7 linked regions of the Homo sapiens genome follow. The protein of the gene in region 1 purifies or fractionates together with the protein of each later gene. This does not show direct contact. Each region holds a gene or a part of one and is shown in the gene's direction. Other genes may lie near its edges. The genes, in order: TEX264, CEP131, ABCC10, ENTPD7, MCM10, SNX14 and LTAP1.

Region 1 (3,500 bases):
GACCTGTTCATAGTAGCTGCTGCTGGAGCTGTTAGCCTTGTGCCCTGGAGTCCTGTATGGGAAGAGGCTGCAGGTCTGGGTGAGTGGTTCTTGTGAGGCAGGAGGAAGGATTCCATTCTCCATCCCTGAAACCCTTGGCATGGTTGGGAATGGGAAGGTGGGGAAGAAGTCTTTTGGGAAGTGGACAGACCCTGGCAGGGGCTCATGGGTGTACTCACCCACCTCAGAGCCCAGCATTCATGGAGTGTGGGCCATTCCTCTTCAAGGTATGCAAGGGATGGGGTATGAGTTCAGAGATAAGGATCACATGTAGGCGGATGTCAGTCACAGATCTCCCTTACACACACTGGTCCATACTGCCCTTGCATGACTGGGGAAGGGTCCTGACTAGAAAAACTGCTCTGCCTTTAGCCCTGCTTCTGCGGTGGGTGCTGGGGGCTTGGAAAGTGACTTCAGGCTCCCTTTTGGGGCCTGGTCCCTCTGGGAGCCTTCAGTGTTGGAGGGGAAGGAAGGAGCTGAGAGGACCCTGAGTGCCTCGCTTGATCCTGGCCAGCTCTGGCCTGTGGACAGGCCCTAGTGGCTGGGCTGCTATCACTGTGCCTGTGGGCCCATCCTGTCTGCCAGGCTGGCTCTCTACCTCCTGCCCCACCCTGTGCCACCATCACCTCTGCTGCTATGTTTGGGGCTTAAGCAACCTGCCTGCTTGCTTATATGGGGAGCCTGGCTGGGGCAAGATGGGTGTGGCAGCTAGTTCAATTTATGTGGCCCAAGTGGGCCTATATTTGCTGCTTACATCTACTACCTAGGAGGTGGTGTTTGCTCCAGGCATGGAGTGGGTTGGGGAACTGGTGGTACTTGCTTCTGCCTTTAGTAAACAAGACTGCCATTGAAGCCCCCTTTCCCTTAGTCCAATGAGAACCAAGGCCCAGGGCCACTAGGTCTGCAGGGGCCTGTGGTCATTTGGCTGGCATGACCACAGCCTCACAGAGGCTGGTGAGAGTTCTGATGTAGGCCTGTGTCACACTCCCTCCTCCCTCAGTGTGTGTGGAGAGAAGGCTCCCTGCCCTCCCTGGAGGCACTTAGTTTGGGTGGAGCCTGGGAAGGGGTGAGGGAGTAGGATTTCCCAGGACTGACCTCCTCAACAAAGGCAATGGGAATGTGGGCTGGGATGTTTCCTGAGGGCTCAGGCCGCCCCCTATCCTGGTTACTCCATGGTTATTTTCTGCCAGGTGGAGTCCAGGCATTTGCTGTGCAGCAGGTTAACTATGTGGGACAGGTCTGGAAGCACGAGCTCCTCTCTGCCCACTAGAACTGTCCTTGAGGTGAGGTGAGACGAGGTGTGAGAGGAAGGGGCTTCGGATTTGCCCTTCTGGGTTTGAATCAAGGCTCCACTGCTAACCAATGTGTGACTTTAGGTGAGTCACTTGGCCTGTCTGAGTATGTCTCCTCATCTGTCACATGAGGATAAAAGAATCCCTACCTCAGGGTTTTTGTTTTGTGGGGGCTAATTGATAATGATATGGCCCAATACCCAGTTCTTTAAATAGGTGGGTGTCACACTTGACATCCAGTCCTGCCTGAGGACCTCATGCCACTGGGACTTTGTACTTTTAGGGACCCTGCCTGCCTCTCTGGTTTAGTCCCAGCCTCCTGCAGGTTGTCTGGGCCATGTGAGGCGGCACAGTGCAGGGAAAAGCCATTGTGCAGCCCGCTTTCACTAGGGCCAATTTCCGGGACTCCTGGATGCCCCTGGGTTGTGTGGCGCAGCTCTGAAGCTGGTCTGCTTGAGTTTGAATCCTGACTTCAGCACTCCCTTGCTGTGTGACCTTGGCTGAATGGCTTGGTTGTCTGGGCCTTGGGAACAGGGTTGAAAACAGTACCAACCACAGAAGGCTGTTTGGATTTAATGAGCTTATGCTTGGAAGGCAGAGTCTGGGGAAAGTGGTGAGTGCCTGGTCAGATATCAGCTGTTTTTAGGATTCTGTTTGAAGGTGTAGGGTTATAGAGGAAGGTTCCTGAAAGGTTTCTAAGTAAACTCACCTTTGAGGGCTGGTATCTTGTTGACTCCTTTCTTTCCTCCCGAGCCTGAAGAATGAGGCTTGTCCTCTGGCCTAGCTGTCTGCATCATCTCGTGTCCTGACTGGTGCCTGTCTCCGTGTGCCTTTGGGCATAAGCTTCCCAGGGAAGTTGGGGGTTGGCGTGTTGACCTGTAGCACCTAGGAGGGCAAACGAGGTCCCGTATCAACCACCTAGTCATGGGCCAGTGCAGCTCGTCTATTCCCTTGGGAGTACAAGTGCAAATGAAGGGCCCTGCCTCTACTTTCCCCCTTAACTTGGGTAGCTCTGGGTCAGTGGGCTGGCATGGGAAGAGTAAGGGCAGCCCTCTGTGCCTGGGTTTGAGAGATGGTGCTGCTGTCCCTGTCAGGTTGTGTAGGTTGTGGGCCTGGGGTTGGCAGTTTGTATTAACCCTGAACCCAATGACTACATTTGGTCTGGGCCGCTGACACCATTTCTCATTCCTGCATCCTGGAAGATTATCAGTCTTGTCCAGTTCCCAGACTCAGCGAGGTCTTGGCTTGGCAGGGGCCCCGAGATGGCTGTCTTCGCTATAGCCTCACACAATAGGGTCGGCAGGGCACTGTGACACCACTCAGGAAGGGGCAGTGGGGCCAGCCTTGGGACTAGCTCGTACCTGGAAGCCTCAGGTTCTAAGCAGACTGCCCTCTCCTCCCAGTAATGGGACTCAGGAGGCTTTTCAGCCCAAAGGAGATGCTCTGGGGCCTGGCATGCCTCTGTTGTTTTCCTGGTACTCTTGCTTTGAGGACACATCCTGGATGGGCTTGTCTTTACCCCGAGTGGTGGTGGGTCTGGCCACTGCCCTGTTTCCCAGATGTGGTTCCTTGTAGGTACTAGTTCTGGTCCAATTCTTGTTCTGGGCAGAGGTACCCAGAGAAATAGCTGATCTGGGGAGGAAGAGGAGCAGGCAGGTAGGGCTGGGAGGCCCAGGCCTATGTCCTAGGGTTCGGCCCAAATACAGATACTCATTGAGCCAAGGTGGATGGGGTCTCTTGCCCATCAGGACATCCCAACCTTCTGGGCACTTGACAGCCTTAGTAGGCCTTTTCCCTGGAGGCGGGTCTGGGCTTTACTGGGAGGCCAGGAAAGCTTTCCTCTGCCACTGGATCAGCCTTGCCACTCCCTAGGTTATTTTAGGGCCTGTCCCATTTCCTCCTTGCTGGTGCCTTGTTCAGCTGCTTCCCAGCTTCAACTTTGCATGGGGCCACTTAGTGGGTGGTAGGCTTGCTGAGAGACCTTCTAGGCTCCTCCTTAGGCCAGGGCAGGGGAGGAGGTAGGAAGTGTTCTTACTTGTGGAATTAGGGAGTTGCTTAGCCAGGAAAGGAGCTGCTGTGCCCCACACACCTCCTGGATCCTGGGAGCCCTGTCTTCTTAGCTCCCTTCTTCCACTTTGACAGGAGCTCTGCCTTTTCTCCAGGTGGAGG
Region 2 (3,500 bases), on another chromosome or scaffold:
CTGCTGCCTGTGGGCAGAGCTGTTCCCCTGGGCGGTGAGACGAGGGTGTTTTCTTCTTACCTGTCAGCAACATCATCAAGGCAGCCACCTGTGAGGGCAGTGAGAGCAGCGGCTTTGGGAAGCTGCCGAAGAATGTCTCCAGTGCCACCCACTCAGCCCGGAACAATACTGGGGGCAGCACGGGCTTGCCCAGGCGGAAGGAGGTGACGGAGGAGGAGGCTGAGAGGTGACCGATCTTGGGGCGGTGGGGGGGGGCCTGAGCCTAGAACACAGAGGTGGGCAGGCATCAGGGTCTGGGGGGCTCACACCTCCGAGGATAGAAATTTCCATTTAATAATTGTTTTAATTTAATTTTTTTTTTTTTTGAGACAGAGTCTCGCTCTGTCGCCCAGGCTGGAGTGCAGTGGCGCGATCTCTGCTCGCTGCAAGCTCTGCCTCCCGGGTTCACACCATTCTCCTGCCTCAGCCTCCCGAGTAGCTGGGACTACAGGTGCCCGCCACCACGCCTGGCTAATTTTTTGTATTTTTAGTAGAGACGGGGTTTCACCGTGTTAGCCAGGATGTTCTCGATCTCCTGACCTCGTGATCCGCCCGCCTCCGCCTCCCAAAGTGCTGGGATTACAGGCGTGAGCCACCACCCCCGGCCTGTTTTAAAATATTGAGACCGAGCAGACCCCATGTGGTGTGGTTCTATTTACATAAAACACCAAGCAAAGGCAAGTTTATCACAGGAGGTCGAAGGCTGGTGTAGGGGTGGCAGAGAGGGCTCCTCCAGGGGCAGTGGAACATTCCAGAACTGCACTGTGCTGATGGTCACACAACTCTAGATTTGCTAAAAATCATTGACTTGTACACTGAAAATGGGTAGATTTTATAGTATGGAAATTGTACCTCAGTAAAACTGTTAATTAAAACAACATTAAAGGCAAAGAAGATACAGAACTGAAAAAAGCCAACAACACCCAAAGCTCCAGGGGCTGTGGGCGGAGCCTCCTGTGATGATGACTGTTGGGGGCTGTGCCCCTGCCGCTTGCCCCTGGGGAGCTGGAGGGGCTGTGGGCGGAGCCTCCTGTGACCATGACAGTCGTTTCTTGTCAGGACAGTCGCGGGGGTACCTCCCTGCCTGGACTTTCGGAGCCTGCTCCTGGCGGAGCCGTCACCTACCCTACCGCCCAGTTAGGGCTAGGGAGACCAGGCCTGTAGACGCGGTGGGTGGCACGAGGGAAGGGGGACCAGAAGCCCGCAACCCCTTGAAGCCCCCCAGTTCTGCCCGGGGCAGACTGCTCCCGAGCTAGGGCTCACACGTTCTGGGTTCTCTGTTAGTGCCTTTGCTGAGAGAATCCACACATGGTCCCGAGAGCCAAGGTGAAGCATTTTTTTTTTTGCTTAATCAGTTTTACTTAGTATAATTTGTATACAATAGAAGGTGCCCATTGTAAGTGTGCAGTTCCATGAGATTCCACCAGGGTGTATAGTGCTGTCTGTGGACACAGCAGACCAAGATAAGGAAACGGCCCAGCACCACCAGGCTTCCCTCGAGCTCCTTCCCCGCCCAGATGCCAGCAGCCACCAGTCTGTTCCCTCATAGCCCTGCCTGTTCCGACCACCCTCTCTGTGGAGCCACGGCCTGTGGTCTGCACTGGCCTGAGTCCCGGGCCTGTTGCCTGTGGGTAGGGTCCCGCCATCCAGTATTCACGCTGTAGCCAGGTCATGGGCATTTGAACTCTTCCCACTTCCTGGCAATTGTAAATAAGGCCACACAGGCCTGCGTGGGTAGGCGTTTCCTCTCCCCTGGGCACCTTCCCAGGAAGAAGGTTTTGGGTTTTAGTGGAGCTGGTCCAGGCGGCTGGTCCTGCCATGTGAAAATGGTCCAGGTGGGCTGGTCCTGCCTTGTGAAAAGGGCTACTTGAGTGCAGCCGCCGGCTTCTCTCTTCCCCGGCTCGACCTTCCACCAGCAGCCAGCTGGGTCCTGCCGGGGCGCTGGTCCTGTCTTGGCCCTGAGTCCTGCTCTCCGGGCAGGTTTATCCACCAGGTGAACCAGGCCACTGTCACCATCCAGCGCTGGTACCGGCACCAGGTGCAGCGGCGCGGAGCAGGAGCTGCCCGCCTGGAGCACTTGCTTCAGGCCAAGCGGGAGGTCAGTGTGGGCGTCTCAGTCACTCCATGCTCCCCCGGGGGGTCTGGCCCAGAATCCCAGGGGTTTGAGTTTCTGGGACAGGTGGAATCAAAGCCTAGGATTGCTCGTGGGCCCCGTCTCTGGGTGCAGCATCCTTCTTGACCCTGGGTCCCCGCGGACAGTCAGGGTGGTCCTCACTGGCGGTCCTCAGGGCCTGGGTGTCAGGAAACGCCTGCTGGGTCCATCCCAGGCTGGAGAGTCTCAGGAGGACGTTCTGTGGGGGCAGAGCTGTCTCCCCCACGCCAGAACTGTTGGCCACCTGCGACGTAGGGCTCATCCTCTGTAGAGCAGAGAAATGGCAGGTTCAAGGTCCTGGTGGGGTTTCACTTTCCCTGCTGGCCCTGAGATTCCACGAACTCTAGGGGACTCCAGGGCGTTGTGGGGAAACCTCTGGTCTGGGTCTGGATTCCGTCTTCCAGATGTAAACGCCACATGGCACCGGCTTCTTTGGCAGGAGCAGCGGCAGCGGTCAGGCGAGGGGACCCTCTTGGACCTGCACCAGCAGAAAGAGGCAGCCAGGAGGAAGGCCCGGGAGGAGAAGGCACGCCAAGCCAGGCGAGCAGCCATTCAGGTGCTGACCGCGCAGGGACCACTGAGCAGCACCGTGGCCCAGGCCTGACCGTGCGGGGCTGCTGCTGGGGCTCCCTGGGCCCCGGGACACTTAGCCTCAGGGCAGCTTGGCTGTGGAGCCTGGGGTCGTCCTCTCCCAGGGACAGTGCTCAGCGATGCTCCCACTGCAGGAGCTGCAACAGAAACGAGCCCTGAGAGCCCAGAAGGCGAGCACTGCCGAGCGTGGGCCACCTGAGAATCCCAGGGAGACCAGAGTGCCAGGAATGCGGCAGCCTGCTCAGGAGCTGTCCCCCACACCAGGCGGCACTGCCCACCAGGCCCTCAAGGCCAACAATACTGGTGAGAGTGGCTCCACGCCCGCCCTGCTCTGGGGGGTGGACTGCAGCCAGGAAGGAAGTGCAGCCCTTGTGGACCTCCTCTCGGCCTCCTGTGCTGCTGCCCATGTTGGCGGCCCCAGTCCTCGGAGTTAGGGGCCTTGGCCCCCAGCTGACCTGACGAGGGTGCCGAGACCTTGACAATCAAATGGTCCTGGACGTAGGGATCCCTACAGAGTAGAAGGCCCGGAAGGGAGGGGTGGCACTCATCCTCCACAGCTCCACACCCAGAAGGCCGTGGCTCCCCAGCGGCTCCTCTGCTTCTGGGGTCGCCTCCGCCTCCCCCATGCCTGGCTCCTTCCCGGGGGTGCCTCCAGAGTTGCTGCCCGCCCCGGGATGCTCCCTGTGGAATGGTGCTGTGTTCTGCTGTGCAGGTGGTG
Region 3 (3,500 bases), on another chromosome or scaffold:
TGCAGTGAGCTGAGATCATGCCACTGCACTCCAGCCTGGGCGACAGAGCAAGACTCTGTCTCACACACACAAAAAAGTAAAAACCTATAAAAGCTTTTACATCAAATCTGCCCAAGATACCTTACTACCTTGCCTGTTAAAAAGACAGGGTAATAGGCCAGGCACGGTGGCTCACGCCTATAATCCCAGCACTTTGGGAGGCCAAGGTGGGTGGATCACAAGGTCAGGAGATCGAGACCATCCTGGCTAACATGGTGAAACCCCGTCTCTACTAAAAATGCAAAAATTAGCTGGGCATGGTGGCACACGCCTGTAGTCCCAGCTACTCGAGAGGCTGAGGCAGGAAAATCGCTTGAACCCAGGAGGTGGAGGTTTCAGTGAGCTGAGATTGTGCCACTGCACTCCAGCCTGGCGACAGAGCGAGACTCCGTCTCAAAAAAAAAAAAGGGTAGTAAATGTAACAAAGTAGTTAAGAATCTGAATCTGAACTTGTGTCCTGCCCCTTACTAGCTGTGGGCCAGCTAGTTAATCTGTCTGAGCTTTGGTTGCACCTGAGAAAAGGAAATGATACCATCTTCATAAGATTACATTGGGGCTTGAATGAGAGAATGCCTGTAAAGTGCTAGGCACATAGTGTTCAATAAGTGCTTGATGTTATTGGAATTATGTCTTGTCTCCTCTGACTAGCTCACCCCAAATTTAAGTCTACTCTCCTCAAGCTCCCTACTTCTCTTGACTCCCACTATCTCCTGCAAAGGGATAGGAAGTGGGCCAGAAGGTAATGGGAGCTCCCTGACCCACTGGGGCACCTGTTCCATCAGATCCTGCCTGCTGGAGACCAGACAGAGGTGGGGGAGAAGGGTGTCACCCTTAGCGGAGGACAGCGTGCCCGGATTGCCCTTGCTCGTGCTGTCTACCAGGTCAGTTAAAGATGGAGGTTGCAGTGGCAGGGAGGTGGGGGGAGTCCAGAGCCTTGGGAACTTGGCTGAGTTAGGAGGATAGGAATATTTTCCTTAGCATCTGGTTCCTTCCCTCCTCCCTTGCATGTTCCTGAGGTATTGGCCATCTCATCCCCTTTTGCAGATTTAAGGCAGAGTTCAAGGCCTTTAAAAAGTATTTGTAGGCTGGGCATGGTGGCTTAGGTCTGTAATCCCAGCACTTTGGGAGGCCAAGGCAGGAGGATTGCTTGGGCCCAGGAGTTTAAGATCAGCCTGGGCAATGTGGCAAAACCCTGTCTCTACAAAAAATAATTTTAAAAAGTTAGTTGGTGTAATCCTAGCACTTTGAGAGGCCGAGGAGGGTGGATCACTTGAGGTCAGGAGTTCGAGACCAGCTGGGCCAACATGGTGAAACCCCATCGCTACTGAAAAACATACAAAAATTAGCTGGGCATAGTGGCACATGCCTGTAATTCCAGCTACTCGGGAGGCTGAGGCAGGAGAATCGCTTGAACCCGAGAGGCAGAGGTTGCAGTGAGCCAAGATCACACCATTGCACTCCAGCCTGGGTGATGAGAATGAAACCCTGTCTCCAAAAAAATTTAGCTGGGCTTGATAGCATGCACCTGTAGTCCCAGCTACTCAGGAGGCTGAGGTGGGAAGGATCACTTGAGCCTGGGAAATTGAGGCTGCAGTGAGTGGTGTTCATGCCACTGCACTCCAGCCTGGGCAACAGAGCAAGACCATGTCTCAAAAAAAAAAAAAAGTGTTATATGGGCTGAGGGCCTGGGACCTAGGAAAGCTGAGTGCTGGCCCTGGGGTGCTGTTCTTTCTTGCCTGAAGGGATGTCCACCCTCAGGTCTCACCTCCTTCTCTGCTAGTGTAGGGGTAGCCCCCAGAGTTTCTCTCAACTGTCTTCTCTGATCACTTTGAGATCTTCTCCGGAGAGCCTTTGGGTCCTGGTGCCCACGGTACCCTCACGTCTCCATAGGAAAAGGAGCTCTATCTCCTCGATGACCCTCTGGCCGCTGTGGATGCAGATGTGGCCAACCACCTGCTGCACAGGTGCATCCTGGGCATGCTGAGCTACACCACACGGCTGCTCTGCACCCACCGCACTGAGTACCTGGAGAGGGCTGACGCGGTGCTGCTGATGGAGGCCGGGCGCCTCATCCGGGCTGGTAATGGGGGCAGGAGCCCCGTGTGAGGGAGGTGTCTGCCCAGGTCTGGCAGGGGATTGTGAAGTACAGACTCTGCCCCCTGCTGCATGTGTGCCCTGAGCCAGTCATTGCTGCCTCCCGCCTTCACAGAACTGGTGTGAGGAACTGGGAGAACAGGAGGGAAAAGGAGTACGTTGGTAAAATGCCAGTGTATTTGGGACTCATGGGCTTTGTGACTGGGTGCTCTTGGGAACTTAAAGGCCCAGGGTCTCTGAGAACATTCTCATATCTTCAGAGAAGAGAAAGGAGTCAGGTTTAGAATGGTCTTTTTGTAAAAACAAAAATTTTTAAACTCTGAAAGATTTTTATGCAGAGGGATGTGACCACCTGCAAGTTTACTGGGAGAGAAATAGGAGGAAATGAAGCTCCAGCCAGATATTAGGAATTGAGCGAAGCATGAGAAAAAGCTCTGCAGTAATGAGAAGTAACCCTGGACAGAGTGGCAGGCATAGCTCTGGCGGTCCTCTTGGGGATGGACATTCGTCCCTCTCTGCTGGTCGGAATCAAGGTTTACAAGGATGGACTTGAGTCCTGCTCGAGGTCTAGGGGTATCCAGAGCAGGGTGGGTTAGAGAGGGAGGCCTAAGAGTCCTGCTCGAGGTCTAGGGGTATCCTGCTAGGGTGGGTTAGACGGGGAGGCCTGAGAGGATGAGAGGTGGGATCTGCACACGCACTGAGAAAGGCATAGTATAGACTCAGAACAGTCCTCTCCCAATCTCCCCTTCTACCCTCCAGGACCTCCCTCTGAGATTCTGCCACTGGTACAAGCTGTCCCCAAAGCCTGGGCTGAGAATGGACAAGAGTCTGACTCAGGTATGGCTCCCCAGTGGGAGAAAAGGGCTTGCTTTTCCCTGCCACACTGTAGAGCTTTTTCTACAACGGCTGCCCGCTCCTCTGAAATACTGAGTTTTCAGCTGGCACCCTGCAAGCTTAATTCTTCCATGACCCCTGATTCTCACAGCCACAGCCCAGTCAGTACAGAACCCAGAGAAAACAAAGGAGGGGCTGGAGGAGGAGCAGAGCACATCTGGTCGCCTGCTGCAGGAAGAAAGCAAGAAGGAGGGCGCCGTGGCCTTGCACGTGTACCAAGCTTACTGGAAGGCCGTGGGCCAGGGCTTGGCCTTAGCCATCCTCTTCTCTCTGCTTCTCATGCAAGGTGAGAGCGTGCCTGGGAGTCTCTTACATCGTAACGGCTGTGCTGTCTAGGTGCCCATTACCTTGCACTAATCATTACAAAGCCCAGAGACTCACCAAGCATGGGTCACAGCTGGGACAAAAGCCATACTCCTAATTCTGAGAGATGCCCAGGGGCCAGAGGCATGTGCTCTATAGCTGGCTTCTGT
Region 4 (3,500 bases), on another chromosome or scaffold:
CGACATGGTCTAATTATGGACTTCCATGTAGGTTAGTTAATATGGCTAAAGACAATTAGGGAGTGAATGGTGAGCTGTATGGCTGGAGAGCTAGATCAAGCTGAGTCTGTTAAGCTATTTTAGAGGGTTTAGGCATTACCCTCAGGGCAGAAGGAAGGCTTTGAAAGGTTTTGAAGAGTGAAAAGGTTGGAACTGCTTTTTAATTTTTTTTTTTTTTGAAACAGAGTCTCACTCTGTCACCCAGGCCGGAGTGCAGTGGCGCTATCTCGGCTCACTACAACCTCCGCCTCCCAGGTTCAAGCAATTCTCCTGCCTCAGCCTCCCAAGTAGCTGGGATTACAGGCATGTGGCACCATGCCCAGCTAGTTTTTGTATTTTTTAGTAGAGACGGGGTTTCACCATGTTGGCCAGGCTGGTCTCGAATCCCTGGCCTCAAGTAGTCCACCTGCCTCGGCCTCTCAAAGTGCTGGGGTTACAGGCATGAGCCATCGTGCCCAGCCAGAACTGCTTCTTAAAGAAAGCTCACTTTGGTGGGATTGTGGAAAAAGAATTGGAGAGGAATGAAAAAGAAAGCAGGAAGAGTAATTGAACTAGAGATGCTCCTTGACTTATGATGGGTTATGTAAATTGAAATATCATAAGTTGAAAATGCATTTAATACACCTAACCTAACAAATGTCATAGCTTAGCCTAGCCTACTTTAAAGGTGCTCAGAACATTTACATTAGCCTACTGTTGTGCAAAACCACCTAACAGAAGGCATATTTTATAATAAAGTATTGAATATCTCATGTAATTTATTGAATACTGTACTGAAAGTGAAAAACAGAATGGTTGTGTGGATACTCACGGTATACTTTCTACTGAATGTGCATCACTTTTGCACCATCATAAAGCTGAAAAATCATAAGTTGTACCATTGTAAGTCAATGACTGTACCTCAATAGAGAGATGGTTGTGGTTGCAAGAGGATGGAGAGAGGTAAAAGCATTTAAATGTATGTGGGTGGCAGAGTGATCTGATAATTCTTGTCTATCACTGTATCCCAAGTGGTCAGAGCCAATAAATACTTGGTAGGTTGAATTAATTGAAACAAGTTAGCAATAGAGCTGAGGAACACATAGACTGTGCCACTGTGGCGACCTCACCAAAGTCCTAACACCCTGGAATGCTGTGGCTCAGAGCTCATTGTTACTTAATGAAAGGTTCTGTATATATTGCCACAAATGACCATTTATCATTAAACTTCACTCAGGGCAGCCTCCATGAGTCATTTAAGAGGCAAACATTTATTGAGGGTTTGCTGTGTCGATGACTCTATGATAGCACTGGAGTACAAAGATGACTAAACATAGCCCCTGAACTCAAGGAGTTCGTAATCTAGTTAGAGAGGCAGGCATAAAGGAAAAATTATTTCCCAGTGAGATAATAGTTTAGGTACGGTTGTATAGAATCAGGAGTGAAGAATCAGGAACTATGTACAAGGTTAAGAATTAGGAACAAAGCTAAGAATCAGAAATTAAACAGAAGAAGTTCTTGAGCAACCAAATTTGATATCACTAAGTTCATGTGCTAAAAGCACCTGTACTTTACTGATAAGATAGGCTCTCACATAAAGCCTGTTAGCTTTTATTTTACACACTGTTCTCATTTGCATGGTTCTCACTTGTCTCAGAACACAGTAGATAACAGCAAATTGGAATGGTGGGTGGGGTGTGTTGTTAGATGTGGGCACATTATGACAATAATCAGTTATATCTGGCATCTTGACAGTGAAGCAGGAGAGAGGAAATTTAATAAAGATAGACTCAATAACTCAAAATTTCTACAGACAGTTTCTATAGTGGTAAACAGTTCTACATATGTTGTTAAAACTGTTTTATTACATAGTCTAAAAATTTATGTTAATGAAATGATAATCTTTTTTTTTTTTTTTTTTTTTTTGAGACAGAGTCTCACTCTGTTGCCCAGGCTGGAGTGCAGTGGCATGATCTCAGCTCACTTCAACCTCCACCTCCCAGGTTCAAGCGATTCTCATGCCTTAGCCTCCCGAGTAGCTGGGATTACAGGTGCGCACCACCATGCCCGGCTAATTTTTGTATTTTTAGTAGAGACAGGGTTTCACCATGTTTGCCAAGCTGGTCTCAAACTCCTGGCCTCATGTGATCCACCCACCTCAGCCTCTCAAAGTGCTGGGATTACAGGCGTGAGCCACCATGCCTGGCCATTAATGATAATTTTAAATCAGAGGTTTTCAACCTTTGTGTATCTAAATCACTTGGGGACCTTTAGAAAAATGCAAATAATTGGGACTCTTCTCAAGGTGAATCTAATATACCACCTGGGTTGAGAAAAACTGCTTTAAGATTTGGTTACATTTACTTAAGGAGGTATTGTGAGGTAAGGGAAAGAATGTTAATATTAGAGTTAATCAGCCCATCATTTGCTAGTTGGGTAATCTTGGGCAGGTTTCTTAATATCCTGGAATTTCATATTCTTTATATATAAAGTGAGAATAAAAATAGCTGTCTTTTAGTCTTGTCATTTGCATAAGAAGAGTAGAGCATCTAGGAATGTCAGGTGCATTGATTGACTAATCAAATGTCAATCTATTATTTGAAATAATCTTGATTTTTCTGTTTTCCAATTCTCTTCTCTGCCTGAAAATATACACTGAAGATAATGGGCGTTATAATCTCTATTTAAAATTTTGATGAAATGATTAAGCAAGTAACTAGGAATTGGTAGAAACACTTGCTACCTTAATTTAACAGCTTAAAAAAGTTTTAACACAAGCGCCTGTAGTTGTGATTTTTTTATATTATATTCATATATAGACATATTTTTTCTACTTAAATTGTTCCTAATTCACACAGTGAAATTATATCCGTACTTTGTGGTGTCCCTCAGAAAGTGTGCTGTCTTCCAGGAACCCACTTACACGTGTCTTCATGGGAGCAAGTTTGCAAACCTTTGATCAGGAAAATGTGCCTAGAGGAACACTACATGCATTCTTTATTTTATTTTATATATCTTTTTTTTTTTTTTTTGTAGAGACAGTGTCTCCCTATGTTGCCAAGCGTAGTCATGAACTCCTAGGCTCAAGCAATCCACCTGCCTTGGCCTCGCAAAGTGCTGGGATTACAGATGTGAGCCACTGTCCTAGGCCCATTCATTGTTTTATGGTCTTGACAAATAAGGCATTGCTTTAATTAGAAATGATAGTCTCTCTTGCACATTGCATCTTTGTATTTTAATATATATGAAAGCAGTTAATGTTTAAAATATTTTAATTACTTTTGCATTGAAAACAGATATTTCAATGTGAACTTTTTATAGGCATTGGTGGAATTTAACATATCACTTTTCAGGGGATATTAACCAGGACTTTAGAAGCCTGTCAGGGGGTTTTCTCTCAGTAGTTCCAGAACTAAAGACTTACATTTTTTTTCTTTATTGTGAACATGTATCCATATTGCTTCTGGAAAGAGAGAGTAGGA
Region 5 (3,500 bases), on another chromosome or scaffold:
ATACAGAAGCGGTAAGAGGAGCAGATTTAATATTCCCCGCTTGGGTCATCCATCTCAGGCGTCCTCAGAACGTCTTCATCGATTTCCAGAATGTGACTTCAGGTTTCGGTTGGCTGCGTTTTAACTCTGAAAGTTTAAAATAGTTTTCCCATAACCTGAATAGCATTTAAGGCTGTATTATTTCTTACACTGGTGACTCCCAACACCAAATGGTACAGGTTAGAGTCGTTATCACCATGGAAAAGGGAAAGGAGTGAAGTGTATGTAAAGAGGGTTTTTGTGAAGGGGGAGAGCGTAGGTTCACATGCTGGCTGTCATTTTCTCTCTCTCTCTCTTTTTTTTTTCTGAGACGGGTTTTCACTCTGTCACCCCAGCTGAAGTGCAATGCTGCAGTGTCGGCTCACTGCAACCTCCATGTCCCAGGCTCAAATGATCCTCCTGCCTTGGCCTCCCAAGTAGTTGGGACTACAGGCATGTGCCACTATGCTTGGCTAATTTTTGTATTTTTTTATAGAGACTGGGTTTTGCCATATTGCCCAAGCTGGTCTCAAATTCCTGGACGCAAGCCTGGATTTGCCTGGCTGCCATTTCTGGGTTTTGCCGCAATTCAGTTTTTTATGACAGGCAGAGCCAGTGAGTAGAATACAGTTCTTTGGATAAAGGACAAAACTGAAGCACTAAAAATGGAGAGTCATTTTAGAGGCAAAAGCAAGTGGAAATGTGTTACTTGGCTTCAGCCAATAATTAAAAAAAAAAAAAATCAAGTGGAAATGCATAGGGTAGGTGGACAAATGAATGATTCCTGAACTCAGGTCACCTGAATACTAATGAGAGCTGCGGTTCACAGGCACTTCATACGTACTCCATAAACACAGTATCTGAGCCTCCGGAGGCTTCTCAGCCTTGTTTTACTAATAGTGTGCCTGGAGATCAGAGAGCTAGTTTATGGTGGGGCCGAGTTTTGGGCTCACACATGTTGTGCTCTGGTGCTGAACCTTTTGCCATCCCGAATCTGGGCTGCTGAAAGGCAACCACATCCATGAAAGGGAGTCAATGATAAGACAAGAGGAAATTCTTTGGGAAAGTAAGAGAATGGGTTTGGTCTCAGGCAGATTAGTTTGAAGTGCCGGTGGGATATCTATAGAGCTATTCATCTTGAGCCTACAGATGACATAAATTATATACGTGGACACAGAAATATGTATGGAGTTGGGGGCCTCGTGGGAAATAGAGAATGCCCATCAGCTTGAAGGCATTGCGTAATGAAAATTTTCAGAATTTTGTTGGCCAAGGAAACCTTATCTTTGCGTAGGATTTGATAGGCAGTTTGCAAACACAGCCTAGAGCTTGCAAGAGTGGCTGTGCGGTTGGGAAGAGTACTGCTCTGGGATGGCCTGGCTCTAATCCTGAGTCTGGCCCTTGTGAGTAATGTGATCCTAGGCCTCAGTTTCTTCATCGATCAAATGAGAAGTTTGGACTAGATGATTTCTGGGGTTTGTTATTTGTTTTTAAATATCTCTTATGAGGCTGGCTTGGTGGCTTATGTCTGTAATCCTAGCACTTTGGGAGGCCGAGGCAGGCAGATCGCCTGAGCCCAGGAGTTTGAGACCAACCTGAGCAAAATGGCGAAATCCTGTCTCTACAAACAGTACAAAGATTAGCTGGGCATGGTGGTGCACACTGTGGACCCAGCTACTCGGGAGGCTGAGGTGGGAGGATCACCTGAGCCTGGGAGGCAGAGGTGGCAGCGAGCCGCAATCGTGCCAACGCACTCTAGTCTGGGTGACAAAGCAAGACCCTGTCTCCAAAAACAAAAGTAAAATAGCTCTTAAAACTATTTTTTGCCAGGCATGATAGCTCACGCCTATAATCCCAACACTTGGGAGGCTGAGGCACGAGAATCACTTGAACCTGGGAGGCAGAGGTTGCAGTGAGCCAAGATCATGCCACTGCACTCCAGCCTGGGTGACACAGCGAGACTCTGTCTCAAAAAAATCAAAAAAAAGAAAGGGGATGTAAAATAATCGCTGCAAGTTACAGTGTTTTTCATTAATGACTTCCAAATGTCTCACATGTATTGTCTCTTCCCAGTAGCATAAACAAAGATGCAGGGAGGTGCAATGAGTTCCTACAGGCCCTAGAGCTGACGGTAGGGGTGGGAATACAGTTCACACCGCGTCTTCAGCTGTGTTCCTTGTGGATGACATCCACTGGACAGCCAATTGATAAAAACAGTTATCAGTTCTAAAGTGTTAGGACAATTACAGCTTATTCAAAGAAAACTCAATTAAGGAGGAGTTAGTAAAGCTAGTATTGTTCTTATCGTGTGCAAATTTGAATTACCAGCCTAGAAGGGGACATTATTTTGCTAACAACTAGCTCCCAACTGGTGGCCTGCCTGCCGCCTCCCAGTCCACTTTGAGTTCTAGAGTTTTTATTTTCGTAAACCCTGTTTGCGTATTTTGACTGTATGTTCTTTAAAGATTTCTGCAGAGCTCAAGTGAAGTTGAGAGCCCAGCTGTGCCATCTTCATCAAGACAGCCCCCTGCTCAGCCTCCACGGACAGGATCCGAGTTCCCCAGGCTGGAGGGAGCCCCGGCCACAATGACGCCCAAGCTGGGGCGAGGTGTCTTGGAAGGAGATGATGTTCTCTTTTATGATGAGTCACCACCACCAAGACCAAAACTGAGTGCTTTAGCAGAAGCCAAAAAGGTAACTGGCATCTCTTCTCTTTAGCACTTGAGTTTGCATTCTGTAGAGCAGAGCTGGAGGAAAGACAGACACCTAATAGCTCTTTATTGATCGTGATCATTAGAGTCAGTGTAATTTGAAAACATGGTAGTGTCAACATAATACTAAAAGAAAGTTAGATCTGTTATCTCAACACTTTTTCTTGTCAGGCTACAAGAGGTAGCCTAGAGGAAGATAGTGTTTTATAACCAGAGGCATTGACAGTAGGAAAACAATGCTTGGAATTGTTGAGGTGAGACTGTAAAATGGTGGTTTAAGGAATCCTTTTTTTACGTTTATTTATTTATTTATTTATTTATTTATTTATTTATTTATTTTTTGAGAAGGAGTCTCACTCTGTCACCCAGACTGGAGTGCAGTGGCGCAATCTCGGCTCACTGCAACCTCCTCCTCCCAGATTCAAGCGATTGTCCTGCTTCAGCCTCCCGAGTACCTGGGACTACAGGCGCCTACCACCACGCCCGGCTAATTTTTAGTAGAGACATGGTTTCACCATGTTGGCCAGGCTGGTCTCGAACTCCTGACCTCAAATGATCTGTCCACCTCGGCCTCCCAAAGTACTAGGATTATAGGTGTGAGCCACCATGCCTGGCGGTTTTATTTTTTATTTGTTGAGACAGACTATCCCCCTGTCACCCATGCTAGAGTGCAGTGGTGCAATTATGGTTCACTGCAGCCTCAACCTCCCAGGATCGATTCATCCACCTGCCTCAGCCTCCCAAGTAGTAGCTGGGACTGCAGGCACATGC
Region 6 (3,500 bases), on another chromosome or scaffold:
ATTAGCTGGGATTACAGGCATGCACCATCATGCCCAGCTAATTTTTGTATTTTTAGTAGAGACGGGGTTTCATCATGTTGGCCAGGCTGGTCTTGAACTCCTGACCTTGTGATCCCCCTGCCTCGGCCACCCAAAGTTCTGAGATTACAGGCGTGAGCCACCCCACCCGGCCGATAGAGAGTTTTTCCTAATGTCCCCCAAGTTCCTCCTGTTAAGGGAATACTTTTTCTTCTCTTAAGTAATATTCTATTTTAGCCAAGTAAGAACTCTAACTCTTTGCTATTCAACGTGTGTTCTGCAAACCAGTAGCATGAACATTGGTTGAGAGTTTGTTAGAAATGCAGACTTTTAGGGCCTAACCAAGACCTACTGAATTATAGTCTCCATTTTAACAAGATCCTTACGTAATTCACATGCACTTGAAAGTTAAGAACTAATATAAATCACTAAATATAAACAATTATTATTATTTCTTTTTCCAGATCTCTGACCTTACTTATAAGAGAGATTCTGTCTGGCTCTGTGTTCCTTCCTTCTTTGGATTTCCTAGCTGATCCAGTAAGACTTAAGATTTTTTTTTAAATTGTTACAAATTACACTTAATATAACATTTAGTATCTTAAACATTTTTATGTATATAGTCAGTGATACTGAAAACATTCATATTGTTGTGCAACCATCCCCATTCCCCATCTCCAGAACTCTTCATCTTATGAAATTGAAACTCTGCATCTGTTAACAATAACTCCTCATTCCTTCCTCCCTCCAGCCCCCCCTGGCAACCACCATTCTGCTTTCTGTCTCCATGAATTTGACTACTCTGGGTACCACATATAAGTGGAATCATAAGTATTAGTCTTTTTGTGACTGGCTTATTTCACTTAGCATAGTGTCTTCAAGGTTCATCCATGTTGTAGCATGTGTCAGAATTTCCTTCCTTTTCAAGGCTGAGTAATATTTCATTGTATGTGTATAACATGTTTTGCTTATCTGTTCATCCATTGATGGACACTTTGGATGCTTCTACCTTTGATCCAGTGAGATTTTGAAGAAACAAGAATGATTTAGAAATATTTTAAATGCCAAAATCAGAATAGCTTTTATTTGCCCATTTTCACAAAGGTTAAGAACCTGTTTTGTAGATGTAAAAAAACTCCTGCTGTAATACATATGTGCAGATTTTTTGCTACTGCTCCATTTATTTTTTCATTTTTCTAGAAACTTACATAATATGATACAAGTTATGAGAATTCTGGGGAGAATACAGTAGTGGAATTATTTTGACTTATGTTTATTATTTTCCACTAGGATACTGTGAATCATTTGCTTATCATCTTCATAGATGACAGTCCAGTGAGTATTGAATATATTAGAAAACACTTCAGATTGCATTGAATTTTGATTTTGTATGTCAAATCAAGTGGGAATTTTACTGAGTTAATAATTCTCTTTCTTTCAAAGCCTGAAAAAGCAACTGAACCGGCTTCTCCTTTGGTTCCATTCTTGCAGAAATTTGCAGAACCTAGAAATAAAAAGCCATCTGTAAGAATTTTCAGCAATAACACCTTTTTGATATAAACAATTTTAGAACTCATTTATATAGCTTAAACTTAATCTTTCTCTTATATCAAGGTGCTGAAGTTAGAATTGAAGCAAATCAGAGAGCAACAAGATCTTTTATTTCGTTTTATGAACTTTCTGAAACAAGAAGGCGCAGTGCACGTGTTGCAGTTTTGTTTGACTGTGGGTGAGGCTTACCTGTGTATTTTACGAAAGTAATTTTTAAACCTTTTAATGTATTTGAATATTTTAAATCAGATCTGATGTTGTGGTACCCATCTATCATTGTACTAAATTTCATATACTCGATTTCCTTTTTTTTTTTTTTTTTTTGTTTGAGGCGGAATTTCACTCTCGTTGCCCAGGCTGGAGTGCAATGGTGTGATCTTGGCTCACTGCAACCTCCGCCTCCTGGGTTCAAGCGATTCTCCTGCCTCAGTCTCCCAAGTAGCTGGGATTACAGGCATGTGCCAGCACCCCAGCTAATTTTGTATTTTTAGTAGAGATGGGGTTTCTCCATGTTGGTCAGGCTGGTCTTGAATTCCCGACCTCAGGTGATCCACCCACCTCGGCCTCCCAAAGTGCTGGGGTTACAGGCGTGAGCCACCGCGCCCGGCCATATACTTGATTTTCTAAGAGCATATGTGGGTTTCTCTCAAGTGCCCACTTCTTTCCAGATTGGGAAATAATCTGTCACTAACTTCATTCAAATCCTAGTAGCAGAAAAAAAAAATACTAAAAGTACAGTATAATGAAAATATATTAAAAACCCAAACTGTAGCCCATGTCAATATCACTTTTTCACAGTTTTTGTAAAGGATTGTTTTGACTAAATTATCAAATATAAGAATACCTCATTTTAATTATAAGCTCTGTAGCATTATAGATTATTGGATTTATAAGAAACTTTATAGACTGAAAATATTGTTTTTAATGCATTTAATTTCTTTTTAAAATATAACTTTAAAAATGAGGTATAATTTATATAGTGAAACACATGGAATTTAAATGTATAGTTTGATCAGTTTTGCATGTGTGTACATCCACGTAACCTGCATCTTTATCAAGATCTAGAACATTTATTTCCATCAGCCCAGAAAATTCCCTTAGGATCCTTCCCAAGAGATCCACTCTTTCCCCTACTCCTGCCAAAGCAATCACTGGTCTCATTTCTCTCAGCACAGATTAGTTTTGCCTGTATAATTTTTTTTATATAAATTGAATCACATAATATGTACTCCTTTGTGCCTAGCTTCCTTCACTCAGGATAATGCTTTTTAAAGTTCATGTATGTTTTTGTCTAAATAAGTAGTTTGGGCAAGGCGCAGTGGCTCATGCTTACAATCCCAGCACTTCGGGAGGCCGAGGCAGGTGGATCACTTGAAGTCAGGAGTTCGAGACCAACCTGGGCAACATAGTGAAACCCTGTCTCGACAAAAATACAAAAATTAGCTGGGCGTGTTGGCTCATGCCTGTAATCGCAGCTACTCAGGAGGCTGAGGCAGGAGAATTGTTTGAACTTGAGAGGTGGAGGTTGCAGTGAGCCGAGATCATGCCACTGCACTCCAGCCTGGGTGACAGAGTGAGACTCTGTCTCAAAAATAAATAAATAAATATGTAGTTTGTTCTTTGCTGAGTGGTATTCCATTGTATGAATGCATATATCTTTTAAACTTCATTATTAGGTGCAGACACATTTAAGATTGTTATATCTTCTTAATGAATTTATTCTTTTATCATTATAAAATGCTCCTCTTTTATCTTTGGTAATTTTTAGTCTTGAAGTCTGCTTTGTCTGATGTTAATATAGCCACATCATCTTTCTTTATATTTGAGTGTTCATTTGTATATCTTTTTCTATCTGATTGAAATGTTTAATGTATTTCTAGTAAGCAGCACATAGTTTCTCTCACTTTAAAAAAACCTAATTTAGTAATCTT
Region 7 (3,500 bases), on another chromosome or scaffold:
GGTCAGGCTGGTCTCAAACTCCTGACCTCAGGTGATCCACCCACCTCAGCCTCCCAAAGTGTTGGGATTACAGGCATGAGCCACCACGCCCAGCCTGGGGAATATTTTTAGGGTTATGCCTAACACCAGTCTTTTCCTCAACAGGTTGCTACAACTATCTGTATAGGATGAAAGCTCTGGATGCCATTCGTACCTCTGGTAAGGGCTACCTGACAGGGTCCATTCTAGGATCCTGAAAGCCCACCTAGGGAACAGAGTAATGAACCCACTTTGTATGTTAGGATTTGTCCTTTCTGCACATCCCTGGCTAGTAGGAAATTCTAGAGTTTTGAAAGTACTAGATTAGAGATTTTGCTGAAGGAAATGATATAAGCAGGTTATTCTCCAAAGAGTCTGGGTGTTTTGTTTTTTAAAGTTCTTCTCTTGAGACCTTTAGTTTCATGAAGTAGATGATAGTAATTTGCTTGTTTTTCCACAAAGGACAGGTGGCACCTGCTTTTTCACTAAGCCCAAGATAGATTGTTCTTGAATTTTTTCCATTCTGTCAACACTTGTCATATATGCTTTATCTCTATGAAAACAGTTTATATCTTAAACCTAGGATGGATGAGTAAGCAGGATGGTAAAATGTGTGATGACACTATCATGTGTCATAGATGTAGCTTACAACTGTGGTGTTACCACCAAATGACCACTCAGGCACAGCTTTATACCTTTGGTCTCAATCAGAATCTCCCTCTAACTCAACTTGCTCATTTCATTAGACCTATTTCTTTTTATTTTTGAGACGGAGTCTTGCTCTGTTGCCCAGGCTGGAGTGCAGTAGCACGATCTTGGCTCACCACAACCTCCACCTCCTGGGTTCAAGCGGTTCTCCTGCCTCAGCCTCCCGAGTAGCTGGGATTACAGGTACCTACCACCATGCCTGGTTAATTTTTGTATTTTTAGTAGGGACAGGTTTTCACCATGTTGGCCAGGCTGGTCTCAAACTCCTGACCTCAGGTGATCTGCCTGCCCCGGCCTCCCAAATTGCTGTAATTACAGGCGTGAGCCACTGCGCCCAGCTTCATTAGACCTACTTCTAAGTTTGGGGAATTAACTAGAAAGACTAAAGAATGGGGCAGGCGCAGTGGCTCATGCCTGTAATCCCAACGCTTTGGGAGGGCGAGGCAGACAGATCACAGGAGGCCAGGAGTTCAAGACCAACCTAGCCAACAAGGTGAAACCCTTTTGTATTTTTGTCTCTACTAAAAATACAAAAATAAGCCTGGCATGGTGGTGCACATCTGTAATCCCAGCTAATCAGGAGGCTGAGACTAGAGAATTGCTCAAACCTAGGAGGTGGAGGTTGCAGTGAGCCAAGATCACTGCCACTGCACTCCAGCCCGGGTGACAGAGCGAGACTCCATCTCAAAAAAAAAGACTAAAGAATGAGAAGAGATATCATTGTGCTGTTTTCTCCACAGAGATCCCATTTCATTCTGAAGGCCGGCATCCCCGTTCCTTAATGGGCAAGAATTTCCGCTCCTACCTGCTGGATCTGCGAAACACTAGTACGCCTTTCAAGGGTGTACGCAAAGCACTCATTGATACCCTTTTGGATGGCTATGAAACAGCCCGCTATGGGACAGGGGTAAGCCAGTTTTTTCTTCGGGGCACTAAAGAGATCCCTCAGACTGAGAGATCCTCACTCTTCCTTTCTCTTTCCTAAGGTCTTTGGCCAGAATGAGTACCTACGCTATCAGGAGGCCCTGAGTGAGCTGGCCACTGCGTGAGTTTGGAGGGGAACGTGTCAGAGGGAGCTGGTACAGTAGTGTTGGACTGTTGCCACAGTGCAGTGACCTTCATAAAGCATATAAACAAAATCCATGATACCATAAGAGTTGTCAGGTTCTAGACTATTAGATCAGTCTCTTACATTAGAAAGCAGATGCGGCCGGGCACAGTGGTTCACGCCTATAATCCCAGCACTTTGGGAGGCCGAGGCGGGAGGATCATCTGAGGTTGGGAATCCGAGACCAGCCTGACCAACATGGAGAAACCCCGTTCTCTACTAAAAATACAAAATTAGCCGGGCGTGGTGGCGCATGCCTGTAATCCTAGCTTCTGGGGAGGCTGAGGCAGGAGAATCTCTTGAACCCGGGAGGCGGAGGTTGCGGTGAGCCAAGATCGTGCCATTATACTCCAGCCTGGGCAACAAAAGTGAAACTCTGTCTCAAAAAAAAAAAAGAAGAAAAGAAAGCAGATGCAACTATACAAGCTAGTAAAAGAAGTTTTTACTAGCATTTTTCTTGTGTGCATTTTTCTTGTCTTTTGTTTAGCCCAATAAAATGTCAAAATTGGTGTAGCCTAGCAAAGGGAATAGTTTTTCAGCACACACAGGGATTCCTTCTCTTCAGAGTCTCAGCGTCCCTTTTGTGTCTTGGCCCAATAAAAGTAAGAATTAAATAACATTGGGCCGGGCGCGGTGGCTCACGCCTGTAATCCCAGCACTTTGGGAGGCCGAGGCAGGCGAATCATGAGGTCAAGAGATCAAGACCATCCTAGCCAACAAGGTGAAACCCTGTCTCTACTAAAAATACAAAAATTAGCTGGGCATGGTGGTGCGTGCCTGTAATCTCAGCTACTCGGGTGGCTGAGGCAGGAGAATCGCTTGACCCCAGGAGGCAGAGGTTGCAGTGAGCTGAGATCACGCCACTGCACTCCAGCCTGGTGACAGAGCAAGACTCCATCTCAAAAAAAAAAAAAAAAAAAAAAAAAAAAAAAGAATTAAATAACATCTATTTTTGGCCGGGCGCGGTGGCTCACGCCTATAATCCCAGCACTTTGGGAGGCCGAGGAGGGTGGATCACAAGGTCAGGAGTTCAAGACCAGCCTGGCCAACATGGTGAAACCTCGTCTTTACTGAAAATACAAAAATTAGCTGGGCATGCTGGCGGGCTCCTGTAATACCAGCTACTCGGGAGGCTGAGGCAGAAATCACTTGAACCCGGGAGGTGGAGGTTGCAATGAGCCGATATCATGCCATTGCACTTCAGCTGGGGTGACAAGAGCATGACTGTCTCAAAAAAAAAATAAAAATTAAAAATTAAAAAAATCTATTTTTACTACCACTTAAAGTATTAGTAACCATGTCTGAAACAAAGGCCATCGCTATAGAGTCAGCTGTTGAGCATTTGTGTCACAGGAGAGGATTCATGGCTTTTGTTTGGGAATGTTTTTAATACACACTAAACATAGTCTCGTATTTTCATGCAAATGTTAAAATCAAAGTTCTTGGCGAGAAAGGAAAGCCAATCTAGAGTAAAAACTTAGGCCGGGCGCAGTGGCTCACACCTGTAATCCCAACACTGGGAGGCCGAGGCAGGTGGATCATCTAAGGTCAGGAGTTCAAGACCAGCTTAACCAACATGGTGAAACCCCATCTCTACAAAAATACAAAAATTAGCCGGGCATGATGATGTGCGCACCTGTAATGCCAGCCACTCAGGAAGGTGAGG

What was found.
Region 2: the proteins of TEX264 (region 1) and CEP131 purify together in Homo sapiens (affinity purification with mass spectrometry; 3 studies listed by BioGRID and IntAct, with this or other methods). This does not show direct contact.
Region 3: the proteins of TEX264 (region 1) and ABCC10 purify together in Homo sapiens (affinity purification with mass spectrometry; 3 studies listed by BioGRID and IntAct, with this or other methods). This does not show direct contact.
Region 4: the proteins of TEX264 (region 1) and ENTPD7 purify together in Homo sapiens (affinity purification with mass spectrometry; 3 studies listed by BioGRID and IntAct, with this or other methods). This does not show direct contact.
Region 5: the proteins of TEX264 (region 1) and MCM10 purify together in Homo sapiens (affinity purification with mass spectrometry; 3 studies listed by BioGRID and IntAct, with this or other methods). This does not show direct contact.
Region 6: the proteins of TEX264 (region 1) and SNX14 purify together in Homo sapiens (affinity purification with mass spectrometry; 3 studies listed by BioGRID and IntAct, with this or other methods). This does not show direct contact.
Region 7: the proteins of TEX264 (region 1) and LTAP1 purify together in Homo sapiens (affinity purification with mass spectrometry; 3 studies listed by BioGRID and IntAct, with this or other methods). This does not show direct contact.

Annotation. Positions count from the first base shown.
Region 1 is NC_000003.12:51,677,752-51,681,251, forward strand, and holds part of TEX264 (testis-expressed protein 264), read left to right. Parts: intron 1-3,500. UniProt on the Homo sapiens protein: Major reticulophagy (also called ER-phagy) receptor that acts independently of other candidate reticulophagy receptors to remodel subdomains of the endoplasmic reticulum into autophagosomes upon nutrient stress, which then fuse with lysosomes for endoplasmic reticulum turnover.
Region 2 is NC_000017.11:81,198,966-81,202,465, reverse strand, and holds part of CEP131 (centrosomal protein of 131 kDa), read left to right. Parts: intron 1-67; coding exon 68-226; intron 227-2,019; coding exon 2,020-2,137; intron 2,138-2,630; coding exon 2,631-2,747; intron 2,748-2,916; coding exon 2,917-3,085; intron 3,086-3,494; coding exon 3,495-3,500. UniProt on the Homo sapiens protein: Component of centriolar satellites contributing to the building of a complex and dynamic network required to regulate cilia/flagellum formation.
Region 3 is NC_000006.12:43,441,041-43,444,540, forward strand, and holds part of ABCC10 (ATP-binding cassette sub-family C member 10), read left to right. Parts: intron 1-821; coding exon 822-920; intron 921-1,929; coding exon 1,930-2,119; intron 2,120-2,861; exon of another isoform or gene 2,862-2,892; coding exon 2,893-2,970; intron 2,971-3,118; coding exon 3,119-3,313; intron 3,314-3,500. UniProt on the Homo sapiens protein: ATP-dependent transporter of the ATP-binding cassette (ABC) family that actively extrudes physiological compounds, and xenobiotics from cells.
Region 4 is NC_000010.11:99,666,009-99,669,508, forward strand, and holds part of ENTPD7 (ectonucleoside triphosphate diphosphohydrolase 7), read left to right. Parts: intron 1-3,500. UniProt on the Homo sapiens protein: Catalyzes the hydrolysis of nucleoside triphosphates and diphosphates in a calcium- or magnesium-dependent manner. Preferentially hydrolyzes nucleoside 5'-triphosphates, with substrate preference for UTP > GTP > CTP.
Region 5 is NC_000010.11:13,192,558-13,196,057, forward strand, and holds part of MCM10 (protein MCM10 homolog), read left to right. Parts: coding exon 1-11; intron 12-2,483; coding exon 2,484-2,712; intron 2,713-3,500. UniProt on the Homo sapiens protein: Acts as a replication initiation factor that brings together the MCM2-7 helicase and the DNA polymerase alpha/primase complex in order to initiate DNA replication. Additionally, plays a role in preventing DNA damage during replication.
Region 6 is NC_000006.12:85,545,359-85,548,858, reverse strand, and holds part of SNX14 (sorting nexin-14), read left to right. Parts: intron 1-482; coding exon 483-558; intron 559-1,308; coding exon 1,309-1,353; intron 1,354-1,461; coding exon 1,462-1,542; intron 1,543-1,632; coding exon 1,633-1,747; exon of another isoform or gene 1,748-1,775; intron 1,776-3,500. UniProt on the Homo sapiens protein: Plays a role in maintaining normal neuronal excitability and synaptic transmission. May be involved in several stages of intracellular trafficking. Required for autophagosome clearance, possibly by mediating the fusion of lysosomes with autophagosomes.
Region 7 is NC_000001.11:154,210,591-154,214,090, reverse strand, and holds part of LTAP1 (protein C1orf43), read left to right. Parts: intron 1-144; coding exon 145-198; intron 199-1,466; coding exon 1,467-1,633; intron 1,634-1,712; coding exon 1,713-1,771; coding exon of another isoform or gene 1,772-1,775; exon of another isoform or gene 1,776-2,630; intron 2,631-3,500. UniProt on the Homo sapiens protein: General regulator of phagocytosis. Required to uptake Gram negative bacterium by macrophages.